Linked DNA regions of Homo sapiens. The protein of the gene in region 2 interacts with the protein of the main gene of each other region in a pairwise test. Each region holds a gene or a part of one and is shown on either strand. Other genes may lie near its edges. The genes, in order: SMYD2 and SNX11.

Evidence for each region.
Region 1: the proteins of SNX11 (region 2) and SMYD2 interact in binary tests that used the Homo sapiens proteins (3 or more experiments, as listed by UniProt).

The regions. Positions count from the first base shown.
Region 1 is NC_000001.11:214,312,158-214,319,427, forward strand, and holds part of SMYD2 (N-lysine methyltransferase SMYD2), read left to right. Parts: intron 1-2,604; coding exon 2,605-2,715; intron 2,716-5,921; coding exon 5,922-5,982; intron 5,983-6,701; coding exon 6,702-6,826; intron 6,827-7,270. UniProt on the Homo sapiens protein: Protein-lysine N-methyltransferase that methylates both histones and non-histone proteins, including p53/TP53 and RB1. Specifically trimethylates histone H3 'Lys-4' (H3K4me3) in vivo. The activity requires interaction with HSP90alpha.
Region 2 is NC_000017.11:48,110,766-48,118,035, reverse strand, and holds part of SNX11 (sorting nexin-11), read right to left. Parts: exon of another isoform or gene 7,269-7,270; intron 6,006-7,268; 5' UTR 5,993-6,005; coding exon 5,951-5,992; exon of another isoform or gene 5,943-5,950; coding exon of another isoform or gene 5,925-5,942; intron 5,463-5,924; coding exon 5,376-5,462; intron 4,736-5,375; coding exon 4,635-4,735; intron 1-4,634. UniProt on the Homo sapiens protein: Phosphoinositide-binding protein involved in protein sorting and membrane trafficking in endosomes. Regulates the levels of TRPV3 by promoting its trafficking from the cell membrane to lysosome for degradation.

The DNA.
Region 1 (7,270 bases), on a different chromosome or scaffold from region 2:
GCGCGGCATTATTTAACTCTGCAGAACATCTTGGCCCAGAACTTGAGCTAAGGGGCTGCACCATAGACTGCATTAAATCATTAAGTGACATTATGTGCTTCCTTCTTGGGGGATCAGTGTGGAGGGAAGCGGGTAGGGAGATATCTTCATTCCTTCAACAACTATATTGAGTGCCTACTAAATGCCAGGCACTGTTGTCAGTTCTGGGGTTACAGCTATGAACAAAACAAAATTTCTTTATTTTCCTGGGGAGAGACAGATACTAAACCAAACAACTAATAAATATATAATATGCTCAGGTGGTGAGAAGTACTAAGAAGCAGCAGAAAGCAAGGAAAGGAAGAATGATGGGGAAGTGCTCTTTCTGACAGGGTGATTGTGGCAGGTATCTTGAGAAGGTGACATTCCAGCAGCGGCTGGAGAGGAGGGAGGGAGTCACATGGATATCCAGGGGAGGAGAGTGCTAGCCACAAAACAGAGCAAGTGCGAAGGGCCTTGAGGCAGGTACATGGCTCCAGGCGCAGCCAGGACACTTCTGTGGCTAAGTGCAGTGAGGCAGGTGAGAGTACGGTGGGGGATGATGGGCTGGGGTGGTGCAGGGACGCTCCCATCACGTGTGGCCTCCTAGGTCACCTTTAGCGCTTGGCCTTTTGCCTGGATGAGAAAAGCCATTAGGTTTTGAGCTGAGGACTGGCCTGATCCGAGTTTTGTCAACAGAATCCCTCAGGCTGCTCTCTGGAACCTAGTCCATGGGAGCAAGGACAGAAGCGGGCATCCAGTTAGAAGGCAGTGGCAGGACATTAGTCATGAGAGATGTTGGGGCTGCAGCCGGGTAGAAAGGTTGTGGAGCTAAGAAGTGATCAGATTCCAGGCAGAGACAGAGGATTTGCCAGAACTGACTGAATGTGGAGTGTGAGTGAGAGAGCAGCGTCAAGGATGACTCTAGCTTTCTGGCCTGAGCATTTATTTTTATTTTTGAGACAGAATCTCACACTGTTGCCCAGGCTGGAGTGTAGCGGTGCACTCTCGGCTCACTGCAACCTCTGCCTCCTGGGTTCAAGCGATTCTCCTGCCTCAGCCTCCTGAGTAGCTGGGACTGCAGGCACATGCCACCACACTTGGCTAATTTTTTTATTTTTAGTAGAGATGGGGTTTTATCACGTTGGCCAGGCCAATCATAAACTCCTGACCTCGGGTGATCCGCCCATGTCAGCCTCCCTGCCCTGAGCATTTATGGCCATTTTCTGAGCTAGGGAAGGCCAAGGACAGAGCAGGACAGTACCCAATTCCATCGTGAAAGAGACAGTGTGTAAGGGCTTCCATCAGTATACAACGTGCTCTGATATTTCCCATCTAAAAAAAAAAAAAAGTCCCCCGCAACTTTTCACTACTCTAAGCTGTGTCTCCTTTCATTTTTTCTTGAATCTGCTCCCTGTCATTTCTTACCCCATCATCCCACCAAAACTTGTTTTTATGAAAATCATCAAGCTTCCATGATTCCAAATCACATTCTCCGTCCTCTCACACTAAGCCTATCTCCAGCACTGGCATCATCATTTACTCCCTAGTCCTCAAAGTACTTGCTTCCCTCAGCCTCCAAAACACCATGGTGTCCTTCTCTCAATGCCTTCCCCATCTCAAGTGATGGCGCCTCCACCCTTCCAGCAGCAAATATCCTTCATCCCTCTACCCGGGGCAGGGAAACTTCAGGGCGTATGATAGAAAGAATACTACTGTTAGGCCAGGCACGGTGGCTCACGCCTGTAATCCCTGCACTTTGGGAGGCCGAAGCAGGTGGATCATGAGGTTAAGAGATCAAGACTATCCTGGCCAACATCTTGAAACCCCGTCTCTACTAAAAATACAAAAATTAGCCGGGCGTAGTGGCACACACCTGTAATCTCAGCTACTCAGGAGGCTGAGGCAGGAGAATCACTTGAACCCGGGAGGCAGAGGTTGCAGTGAGTCGAGATCGCGCCACTGCACTGCAGCCTGGCAACAGAGCGAGACTCTGTCTCAAAAAAAAAAAAGGAAAGAAAGAATACTACTGTTTTATCCAGTGCATCTTTGGGAAGTCCTAACTATTCCTAAATCTTTCCAGTGGTTGCCCTTCATGAAACCCTCATTTGTGCTTTTTAAAAAGTCGCCTGTAAAAGGGACTCATTGCTGTGTAAGTCAACTCTCCATTATTTGCCCTGACGTGAGAACAAAGCCAGAGCGGAACTGTGAGGCAACAAAGCCAAATCAATGGCTGATACTCAAATTGCTCCCTCTGCAATTTGACAGCTTGCACAGATGATGGAAAGATGTATGTGTTGTTTAGAATAATGAGGGGCTGCAGAAAGCCATGAGGTGCTTGAGGAAAAAACACAAAGTAGATCTTCTCATCCCAACAAGCTTGACCCAGGCCTGAGTGAAGGTCATACAATCCTGCCTATCTTAAAGGATGTTTTTATCTCTAGCTTTTGTGAGCATCCTCGTGTTTTCCAAAAGGAAACATATTTTACTTGACCTTAACTAGGGGGACTCACTGCATCCTCTCCTCTCACACTTTATTCCAGTGTATGTGCTATTTTTTAATAATGTTTTTTTCAATCTTCCCAGAAAGAAGATTGGCCCATGCACAAGCTGGAATGTTCTCCCATGGTTGTTTTTGGGGAAAACTGGAATCCCTCGGAGACTGTAAGACTAACAGCAAGGATTCTGGCCAAACAGGTGAGGAAATGGGACAATGTTCAAGTGCATTTTATTTTGTTTTTCTTTTAAAGGTCAGAAAGATGAGTAACTGACCTTTGGTAACCATCTCTCGTTAAACATCCTTAGACTACATTTCCTATCATATCCATATGGACAGGGGTGGGGAAAATACTCCAGGCATAATCTAGTTAGTTGTGTGCCCTGTGCAATTAGGATGTTGCTTACCCTAGACCAGGAGCATAGCCACAGCTCTGAAATTCTGAGCTGTTTTCATGACAGGTTTACATGGAAATACGTGACATGAAAAGCCTGACCTCAAATAATTAGAGCTTCCTAGGGAACCAGATTGGTCTGAGCAGCTTTGAGATTTTCCTCTCTTTCCATTCTGACATAAAGAGTGTACTCTGTTCCCCTTTCCTGTGTAATATTCTGCTCTTTCTTGGCTCCTTTCTTGCCTGTGCATAGGCAGGCAAAGAATTGGATGGAACAGCCTTGACTATGACATGTGCAAAGAAGAGAAAGAGTGGAAAAGTAGAAATAGAGGCAAGGGAGAGGGGAAGAGAGTTAAAAAAAAAAAGTGAAGAAGAAGGAAAGAAAGAGGTGCCCTTGATGGAAACAGATGATAGTCATCAATGGCTTTCTCCAGAAGTGATGCCAACTCTGACTATTCTGTGGTGGGCAGGACTATGCAAACTTACGCTCAAAGAGTGAGGAAGCTGAGAGACAGAAGAAAGAAGCTGACAAATCCAGTTTATTAGAAACATTTACTAGGACTTATGAACTGAAGCCATGTCTATGTCTTGGGCGGCAGCAAGACAAGATGGTGGATCCCTGCACCATTACCCACCAGAGCCAGGGCTTATATACCATAGGGAAGAAATGTGTACAGCAGTTACAAGGAAAGGCAAGGATGCTATGCAAATCTGCCTGAGAGCAAGATTTGTGCTCAAGATTGTATTGACCTAAGGCAGGATTTAAGGTAGCCATAGACAAAGTAGAAATCTTAGAAGCATTCCCAGAGCAGGAGTTAACCAGAAATCAACATGGTATATCAGCATCCAAGATGAAATTGCTTTAGCCACCGTACTGACTGTTCTCCGCCTGGTCTGGTTCATTCTTGCTGATTGCATAATAATTAGACACCTAATCTTCGAAGGGCCAAACTAAAAAGAGGACAGGAAAATGCCATAGAACTTGTCCTTGTGATCCAATGAAATAGGCAGTGTGGGGCTTAGAAGGCATATGTCCAGGCTGTGGAGGTCTTGCTCCTCAGTGCTGTCAGAGAAGTTGGTGGCAGGGCCTCTGGACTATAAATCTTTTAAAGCTGAAATTTTGGCTGGGCATAGTGGCTCATACCTGTAATCTTAGCACTTTGGGAGGCCAAGGCAGAAGGATTGTTTGAATCCAGGAGTTCGAGACCAGCCTTGGCAACAAAGTGAGACCCATTCTCTATAATAAATTTTAAAAATTAAAAAAATTTCCCAGGTGTGGTGGTATACACCTGTGGTCCCAGCTATTCTGGAGGCTGAGGCAGGAGAATTACTGGAACCCGGAACTTCAAGGCTGCAGTGAGCTGTGATTGTGCCACCATACTCCATCCAGCCTGAGCAACAAAGTAAATGAGACTCTGTCTCTAAAAATGAAAAAAAAAAACAAACTGAAATTTCATCCACTTCTCCTGTATACCTACCAGCCCTCCTCCACCCTTAAAATTTTTCTATTTTTTAATCTAAGCCAAATGTGATGGAAATGATTAGCATGTATCTGTCCCCAGACCAAGTTAGGATCCTGGGCTGTGTAAACAGAAGTAGAACATTTCAAAACTCTGAGGTCATCCTTCAGCTATGTTCAGCTTGGGTCAGGTGCTTGCCGAAATGCTACCTCGCCAGCCAGCCGAGAGTAACAAAGGCCATTCATGGGTTGCCTGTAGAGTGAGACCAAAACATCAGAATTGTTTCCCTGCAGGAGGTTAACTTTCGGATCCTTAATAACAGTTATTTTTAAATTTATGCAGAGTATTTGGGCTGAATAAGTCAGAGGGAATAGGATGACTGGGTGTGAGGTATCAGAGTCAGTAAGTCATCAGATGGGATCTCCGCACATCTTGGGAGGATTGGGTGGCCAAGCTGGTGTTTTATTATTTTGTTCCCCTGAATTATTGATGATATTTATAGTGATATGTTAAGAATTCAGAAGAGGCTGGTAGACTTTCCTGAATGAAAAGCTTTCCCAAGCGAGATGACTTATAAATCTTATAAAAATGCATCCCGTGAATGGAAGATTTCTGCTCCAAAAAAGAACTATTGAAATATTTCGGCACCAGGAGGGTAGTCTGAATGCAAAGATGAGTTTATACAAGCTTCATTCAAGTTTTATTATAATTACTACTACTACTAATAGTGTATTAAATGAAAGTTACCTGCCCATCTTTTCATCTCTATAGGACTTGATGATTAAAAAAACAGACCATTTGTATTCTAGTAGCTTGCAAAGGATTAGGGGAGACAGGCTACCAAACTACCAAGGGGAGGCTTAACATGTTAACTAGGGAGGTGAGCGTGCCCTGCTAGACCACCTGTATCCCCAAATTGAATAGCCACATTACAAAGACATGGCCTTGGGCCAGCTCCTGAGCTCTGCCTTTGAACTCTTGTCAACACCAAGTTTATTCATGTTCTCAAAGCCTAGCGGGTTTACTATTGTTAGCTCCTCTTGGGGTGTCTAGAACAAAGCCAGCAACGCGTTTAAAGTGAATCTGGGCTCACAGATACAACCAAAAGTGTTCTTTTTGAAACACAGAATTTGAGATCATTTTAGCCTATGCTTAAAGAAAGTGTAAAATGGATGGGGGGTTTGATTTTGTTCCTTTTTAGAAGGAGAAATAATAAATAGGATGGTTTGTCTGTAGACCCAGTCCTTTTAAGTAAGGACCCTAAAAAGTTGTTTTCCGGCCCTGTTCTTTCCCGTAACAGGTATTTCTGAGCCTACTGTGTGCATAGTATTATCAGGGTGTTAGGTACACGGTAGACATTTAAAAAAGCGCTTTAGAAGAGTCTTTGGATTTGGCTGGTGGAGAGCCCTAGTGGTGGAGTCCTTGAGTAGCTTGTTTTACTTCCTTAAGAATTGTTACTTTTTCTTTATGTTGATGTAAAAGTGAAAGTGCCACTTTATTACACTGGTTGTTAAAAAATCTGTATCTGTGTGATTTCTTCCCCAATTGCTAGAAAATCCACCCAGAGAGAACACCTTCGGAAAAATTGTTAGCTGTGAAGGAGTTTGAATCACGTAAGTCTTTCTGTGACCAGCCGCGCAGTTCTCTCAGCCACAGATTTCACATGGGTTGGGCAGGATTGAAGCGAGGACGGGCTAGTTTGTGCTCAGAGGAGTAGTGATTTCTTTGATTACTAGTTTTTATTTTTACTCTTGTGCTGTTTCGAAAAGCACTTTTAGCTTTTTTCTTCTGAGTTGACAGGATTGTTAGGAAATAATTAAAGGAGGTAGGAGCTCCCAAAATGAATTATTGCACCCTGAGCTACCTCCTGCTGGCCCTCTTGGCATGCTGAATACTTTTGGATCTTTGCTGAATTGCGTCCTCTAAATAGCTGATGTTCTTACTGAAAGCCGTGAAATCAGGGGTTGTCCAGTTGTTTGACCACGGCCCAGATTCCCGGGCCAATTGGGGGGCCCTTGACTAGGCTGAGGCTGGTTATGAGTCATTGCTACCCATCCCTGACCTCATTGCTAACAGTCAGTCGAAATCTCACGTCCCAAGTGACTTCTAGTCATCAGAGGGAGAGAAGGAAGAAATGGCTTGCTTTCTTTCCTTAGGGTTTGTCAGTTAAACCAAGTAATGGGGAAGAATGTTCTCTGGGGGTTCAACATGTTAGTTTTGGGTTTTTTTTTTTTCGCCCGTTCCTTTCCTCTGTATCATTTACAGCAAAAATAGGATGTAGCTAGAAATCCCACGCTTTCTACTGGGTGAATAATGGATTATTTATCCACAGATCTGGATAAGTTAGACAATGAGAAGAAGGATTTGATTCAGAGTGACATAGCTGCTCTCCATCACTTTTACTCCAAGCATCTCGGATTCCCTGACAATGATAGCCTCGTAGTACTCTTTGCACAGGTAAGGACGCTGGCAGCAGGTAACACTCAGTCTGGCCTTTCCCTCTCCAAGGCCCTCTCCCTAGCAAGCACTCAGTGAAGATGAATGCAAATAGAATGATGGCATCTTCCTGACAACGAAGCTCTGAGCCAATTGGACCGTGTGTTGCCATAGCCTTGCTCAGTGACCTTGAGCAGATCAAGGTCCCCTCTGCTGGCCCTCATTGATGGGTGGAGTGTAGGAAATTCGCCTCTGCCTCTGCCTCACAAAGAGTTCATGAAAACAAAGGAGTTGTCAGTGCCCTGGTACTCTGGCATACTTTAAGCTCTTTGCAAAGAAAAGACCATTTGAAGTTCCTACATTAAATTTTACTTTTACTCTCTTAAACCTTCTGTTCTATCTGTAGTGTTTTTTCACTCTAACCAAGGCTGCACTGATAGGAGGGCCCTTTGTGATGGCCCGAGG
Region 2 (7,270 bases):
ACAAGGTATTGCTTTCCAAGCTGCTCTCTCCAGGTTGCCCAGGCTGGAGTGCAGTAGCATAAACGTGAGCATAGCTCGCCGCAGCCTCAAATTCCTGGGATGAAGTAATCCTCCTGCATCAGCCTCCCAGAATAACTATGACTACCGGTACGTGCCACTGTGTGCACCTAATTTATTTATTTGTTTACTTATGTATCTGTAGAGACAGTATTGCTCTGTTGCCCAGGCTGGTCTCAAACTCCTGGCCTCAAGTGATCCTCCTTCCTTAACCTCCCAAAGCACTGGAATTACATGTGTGAGCCACCAAGCCGAGCCACACTATGTTGTTTATGAAACCCACTCCCAGCTTGGTGCCATGGTTCATGCCTGTAATCCTGGCACTTTGGGAGGCCGAGGTGGGCAGATCACTTGAGCTCAGGAGTTCAAGACCAGCTTGGGCGACATGGTGAAACCTCATCTCTCCTTTAAAAAAAAAAAACAGCCAGGCGCGGTGGCTCACGCCTGTAATCCCAGCACTTTGGGAGGCCGAGGTGGGTGGGGATCACGAGGTCAGAAAATCGAGACCATCCTGGCTAACACGGTGAAACCCCATCTCAACTAAAAAATAGAAAAAACTAGCCGGGCGTGGTGGCGGGCGCCTGTAGTCCCAACTACTCGGGAGGCTGAGGCAGGAGAATGGCGTGAACCTGGGAGGCGGAGCTTGCAGTGAGCTGAGATTGTACCCTTGCACTCCAGCCTGGGCAACAAGAGTGAAACTCTGTCTCAAAAAAAAAAAAATTAAATAAATAAATAAATAAAAATAAAAATACATAATTAGCCAGGCGTGGTGGCACATGCCTGTAATCCCCAGCTACTCGGGAGGCTGAGGCAGGGGAATCACTTAAACCTGGGAGGCGGAGGTTGTGGTGAGCTGAGATCAAGCCATTGCACTCCAGCCTGGGCAACAAGAGCGAAACTCCATCTCAAAAAAAAACAAAAAAGAGAAAAGAAAAGAAAATTAGTAGGGCATGGTGGTGCACCCCTGTAATCCCAGCTACTCAGGAGGCTGAGGAAGGAGAATCACTTGAACCTGTGAGGTGGAGGTTGCAGTGAGCCGAGATCGTGCCACTGCAAACACTCCAGCCTGCAGGATGAGACAGGAGCAAGACTCCATCTCAAAAAAAAAAAAAAGGCCGGGCGCAGTGGCTCACACCTGTAATAGCAGCACTTTGGGAGGACAAGGCACGTAGATCATGAGGTCAGGAGTTGGAGACCAGCCTGACCAAAATGGTGAAACCCCGACTCTACTAAAAATACAAAAATTAGCCAGCCGTGGTGGTGTACACCTGTAATCCCAACTGCTCAGGAGGCTGAGGCAGAAGAATCCCTTGAACCTGGGAGTTGCAGTGAGCCGAGATTGCACCACTACACTCTAGCCTGGGTGACAGAGCGAGACTCCGCCTCAGAAAAAAAAAAAAAAAGGAAAAAAGAAATCCACACCCACCATCAACTATTATTTTTAAAAAGGAAGAAACTGGAGTGGGACGCAGTGGCTCACAACTGTAATCCCAACAACTTGGGAGACTGAGGTAGGAGGATCACTTGAGGCCAAGGAGTTTGAGAGACCAGCCTGGGCAACAAAGTGAGACCTTTCTCTACAAAAAATACAAAAATTAGCTGAGCATGGTGGCACATACCTGTAGTCCCAGCTACTTGGGAGGCTGAAGTGGGAGAATCCCTTGACCCCAGGCGTTTGAGGCTGCTGAGGCTCACATTTTTTTGTAGTTGTTGTTGTTGTTTTTGAGACAGTCTCGCTCTGTCACCAGGCTGGAGTGCAGTGGCACAATCTCAGCTCACTGCAACCTCTGCCTCCCAGGTTCAAGCAATTCTCTGCCTCAGCCTCCTGAGTAGCTGGGATTACAGGCACCTGCCACCACACCCGGCTAGTTTTTTGTATTTTTAGTAGAGATGGGGTTTCACCATCTTGGCCAGGCTGGTCTTGAACTCCTGACCTCATGATCCACCTGCCTCAGCCTCCCAAAGTGCTGGGCGTGAGCCACCGCGACCGGCAGAGGCTCACTTAGCTAAGCTCTGTCTCAAAAAAAAAAAAAAAGAAAGAAAAAGAAAAACAAAACAAAAAAAAAACAGGCCAGGCTGGAGGATATAGGATTTGTCAGGGGAACGGAGTTTCACCTGGTTTATTAGGGCCTGCCCCAGGACAACAGCCTCATCAGTTCCACATGTTAACTAACTGACTTGGTCACTCAACAGGCCACCTATCACCACTGAGTATTCAGTGACCATCCTACAGCAAAATCACTGTTGTAATTCTCTCCACTTTCAGGACTTATTTGGCAGGTGGGTGTGAGGAGTAAATAATAACTGCCTTCCCTAGGCTCTCATATGTCTCTGGAAAAGGACCTCTGTATTAAAAGAGAAAAAAAAATCATTATTTTTACATGTGAAGTGGATGGAAACACTAGCTGTCAAATAAGTCCAGGTGCTTAAAATTTTCTGATAAGCAGATTTAAACTGTTTAAAATGTTAGCTGTATATTTGTTGAGCTCTAGACATATATGCATATAAAGAAAGAAAAATATTTTTGATGTTAGTATGGCTTTGTTAGGTAAAAATACTCGAAATTAGATTCTACTTTTTTCACTGACTTGAAAATATGATTTAAGAACATATATCTGGCCGGGTGCGGTGGCTCACGCCTGTAATCCCAGCACTTTGGGAGGCCGAGGCAGGCGGATTGCCTGAGGTTGGGAGTTCGAGACCAGCCTGGCTAGCATGGTAAAACCCTGTCACTACTAAAAACACAAAAATTAGCTGGGCGTGGGGGTAGGGACCTGTAATCCCAGCTACTCGGGAAGCTGAGGCAGGAGAATCGCTTGAACCCAGGAGGCTGAGGTAGCAGTGAGCCGAGATCACACCATTGTACTCCAGCCTGGGCAACAGAGTGAGACTCCGTCTCAAAAAAAAAAAAAAAGAAAAAAGGCGGAGCATGGTGGCTCACGTCTGTAATCCCAGCACTTTGGAAGGCCAAGGCAGGTGGATCATGAGGTCAGTTTAAGACCAGCCTGCCCAGGCTGGGCGCAGTGGCTCACACCTGTAATCCTAGCACTTTGGGAGGTGGAGATGGGTGGATTGCCTGAGCTCAGGAGTTCGACACCAGCCTGGGCAACGTGGTAAAACCTCATCTCTACTAAAATACAAAATAGTCAGCCAGGCGTGGTGGCAGGCGCCTGTAATCCCAGCTACTCGGAAGGCTGAGGCACAAAAATTGCTTGAGCCTGGGAGGTGGAGGGTGTCACTGCACTCCAGCCTGGGCAACAAAGTGAAACTCTGTCTCAAAAAAAAAAAAAAAAAGCAAAAAAAACCCAGCCTGGCCAAGATGGTAAAACCCCACCTCCACTAAAAATACAAAACATTAGCTGGGCATGGTGGTAACCCCCTGTAATTCCAGCTACTCGGGAGGCTGAGGCAGAGAACTGCTTGAACCCGGGAGGCGGAGGTTGCAGTAAGCCGAGATTGTACCACTGCACTCCAGCCTGGGCGACAGAGCGAGACTCCATCTCAAAAAAAAAAAAAAAAAAGAAGGCCTGGGCATGGTGCCTCACGCCTATAATCCTAGCAACTTTGGGAGGCTAAGGCAGGCAGATCACCTGAGGTTAGGAGTTCGAGACCAGCCTGACCAACATGGAGAAACCCCATCTCTACTAAAAATACAAAATTAGCCAGGAGTGGTGGCGCATGCCTGTAATCCCAGCTACTCAGGAGGCTGAGGCAGGAGAACCTCTTGAACCCGGGAGGTGGAGGTTGCGGTGAGCCGAGATCGCACCCAGGCAACAAGAGCAAAACTCAGTCTCAAAAAAAAAAAAAAAAGAACATATTTCCCAGCCAGGAGTGGTGGCTCACGCCTGTAATCCCAGCACTTTGGGAGGCCGAGACAGGTGGATCACTTGAGTCCAGGAATTTGAGACCAGCCTGGCCAACATGGACAAACCCCACCTCTACTAAAAATACAAAAATTAGGCAGGCATAGTGGTGGGCACCTGTAATCCCAGCTACTTGGGAGGCTGAGGCAGAGAGAATTGCTTCAACCTGGGAGGTGGAGGTTGCAGTGAGATGAGATCATGCCACTGCACTCCAGCCTGGGCAACAGAGCAAGACTCCATCTCAAAAAAAAAAAAAACATTATTTCCCAGCCGGGCCTGGTGGCTCACACCTGTAATCCCAACAATTTGGAAGGCCAAGGCAGGAGGACTGCTTGAGCCCAGGAGTTCAAGACCACCCTAGTAACATAGGGAGACCTCCATCTCTACAAAAATATTTTCCAAATTAGGCAAGTGTGGTGGCATGCACCTGTAGTCCCAGCCACTTGGGAAGCTGAGGTGGGAGGATTGCTAGAACCCAGGAGGTTGAGGCTGCAGTGAGCCATGATTGCACCACTGCACTCCAGCCTCTGTAACAAAGCAAGACCCTACATCAAAAAAAAAAAAAAACCCAAAAAACAAAAAAAGAAACAACATATTTCCCAATTTCCTTAGTGCCTGGTATGTTGCAAGTTCTCTTCATTGTCAACTCCAGTTCCTACATAAGCACCCAAAAAGCCAGTCACAGACCCAAGAAGGAAGCAAGAGCAAACTCACACCAAACCAGCATTTCTCTGTAGCTGCTTTCTCAGCCACACGAACTCACGGTAGCGGCGCCGCACACAGGAAGTCTTGGCAGTAAAGGCTTTGCTGTTGGTCTATACATGAAAGCACATGAAGTACATGAAAAGGGTTTAGTGGAAATAGACAAGTTCACATGAGCTCCCTATCATTGCTTTCACTGAGGAGCCATGCCATCAGGCCACAGACCTGATCAGGTCCCCAACTAGAACAAGGTGCCACCAGGCAGCCCAAAAGCAACTCAAAGACATACCTCAAGCTCTCTTTCCTTTCCTCCCTCCCTTTCTTCTAAGTCTTCTGTCTCGGGTCCACCAGAAACACTCAAAAATAGGTTACACCTTGACCTGCACGGTGGCTCACGCCTATAATCCCAGCACTTTGGGAGGCCAAGGAGGGTGGATCACTTGAGGTCAGGAGTTCAAAACCAGCCTGGCCAACATGATGAAACCCCATCTCTACTAAAAAAATATATATTCAAAATTAGCTGGGCGTGGTGGCACATGCCTGTAATCCCAGCTACTTGGGAGGCTGAGGCAGGAGAATCACTTGAACCTGGGAGGCGGAGGTTGCAGTAAGCCGAGATCACACCACTGCACTCCAGCCTGGGCAACAAGAGCAAAACTCCATCTCAAAAAAAAAAAAAAAAGGTTACACCTCAGTACAAGCCCCTCAGCCCTGCAGAGCGCTGACCCCAATACAGAAGCTTGATGTACTCACATGGAGGAATATCTTATAATCCACATAAGAGTTCCAGGAGCCCTCATTCTGCACTCGGGGGTCCTGAACACGCACTGTAATCACCTCCTGTAGGTAAGAAAAGCTCCCTCAGCTTCAGCTACACAGCAAGGCAGCTCTGACAACACAGGTCGCTAGATTTTTCCACCCAACACCAACTTTCATTCACTCAACACCAACTTTCATTTATTCAATTCAACTTTCATTCACTCAATTCAGTCACTCAATTCAACAAATTTTTACTGAGCCCCACTACGTGTCAGACACTGTTATAGGCACTGGGGATAAAGCATGAACAAGAGACGTAAGTGCCTGCCCCCATGAAGCTTACATTCCAGTATATTCCAATCAAAGGAAAATTTAGTCAGAATGGAACCCCAATTTCCTAGGAATGCCTCTGCTGTTGATTTCTTTCTCCTGACTTTATTCTGAGCTCATCAGAACCACCAAAGTAATACTGCAGGTAATAATTAATGATTTGCATCTCTATGTCCTCTTTCCTCCTAAATCCCCTCTCCAACTTTTACCCACCTGTTCTCTGCAGACCATACTCTTACCTCCTGTTCTTGGTTCTCCGACATCCTACACCAAAAGCCCATTGGAAGGAAACATCTGATGAGGGACAGAGGATACAGGATCAAGGTTAGTATGCCTCTGTTCTTATCATTCTTTACCAGGGAAAACCCCGAAAGTTTTTAATAGACCCCCGTGGGGAAACCCAGGCAACACTTTTTGTTCTTGTAAAACTTAAGAGGAAGCAAAAAAAAAATCCCCATTAGCTCAATGCCAAGCTAAAAGGCCCTGGGGGATTTGCCTCCCTTCTCAGACCAGGCCCTCAACTAGGCCACCTCTCCCCAAAGCGTGTTGGAGTCTACAGAAAGTTTGTCACACGCAGCCAGAACAGGCGGGTCCAGATGTAAAACTTTTGCCTTGAAGAATGCAGGCACAACAGGGTCTGGTGAGCACTCACATCACAGCATTTTTTTTTTTTTTTTGAGGCAGAGTTTCACTCTTGTTGCCCAGGCTGGAGTGCAATGGCACAATCTCGGCTCACCACAACCTCTGCCTCCTGGGTTCAAGCAATTCTCCTGCCTCAGTCTCCCGAGTAGCTGGGATTACAGGCACGTGCCACCACACCCAGCTAATTTTGTATTTTTAGTAGAGACGGGGTTTCTCCATGTTGGTCAGGCTGGTCTCGAACTCCTGACCTCAAGTGATCCGCCCTCCTCGGCCTCCCAAAGTGCTGGGATTACAGGCGGGAGCCACCACGCCCTGCCAGATCACAGCTTTGAAAGCGAGCCTAACAGCACCCCCTCCCGGCTGTTTAGAGACAACCAAGTCCCCACAAACACCAATGCTTCTGCATTTCTCCCAGTCTCACTAACAACCAGTCAACTCCCCACAGGTGAATCATAGAGCTAGAGCACTCCAAGGAGCACCTGAGTGGGTTGCCCAGTTGGGACCTTCCCCTTATCCAATCCATACTCTGGAACCCGAGCCAATTGTTCTAATTACTTCCTCTCCTGACATGCCATCCGGTTTGTACTTCTGTCCAAGCACCCCACAGCTGCACAGGTCGACTCAGGATGCGTTCTGCTCCTTTGTAAAGATTCATTAAAGCCTCAGCCCCTGATTTTCCCCAATGTGGCAGTTCACGTGTATAGCGACATCACCCACTCCGACAAGGGGACCATGAAGGCTGCAGCACGGGGTTACTCAAGTCCAATGGGGCCCATGATGTCACCTTCTGTTAAAATACAGCACTAATCTTGTTACTTCTACAACTATTCCAACAGCATCCACCCTGGCTGCCGCCTGCACCCCCTTCTCTCTTAAGAGAGAAACAATAAGGTTTAATTTCCCTTTCCAATTTACCT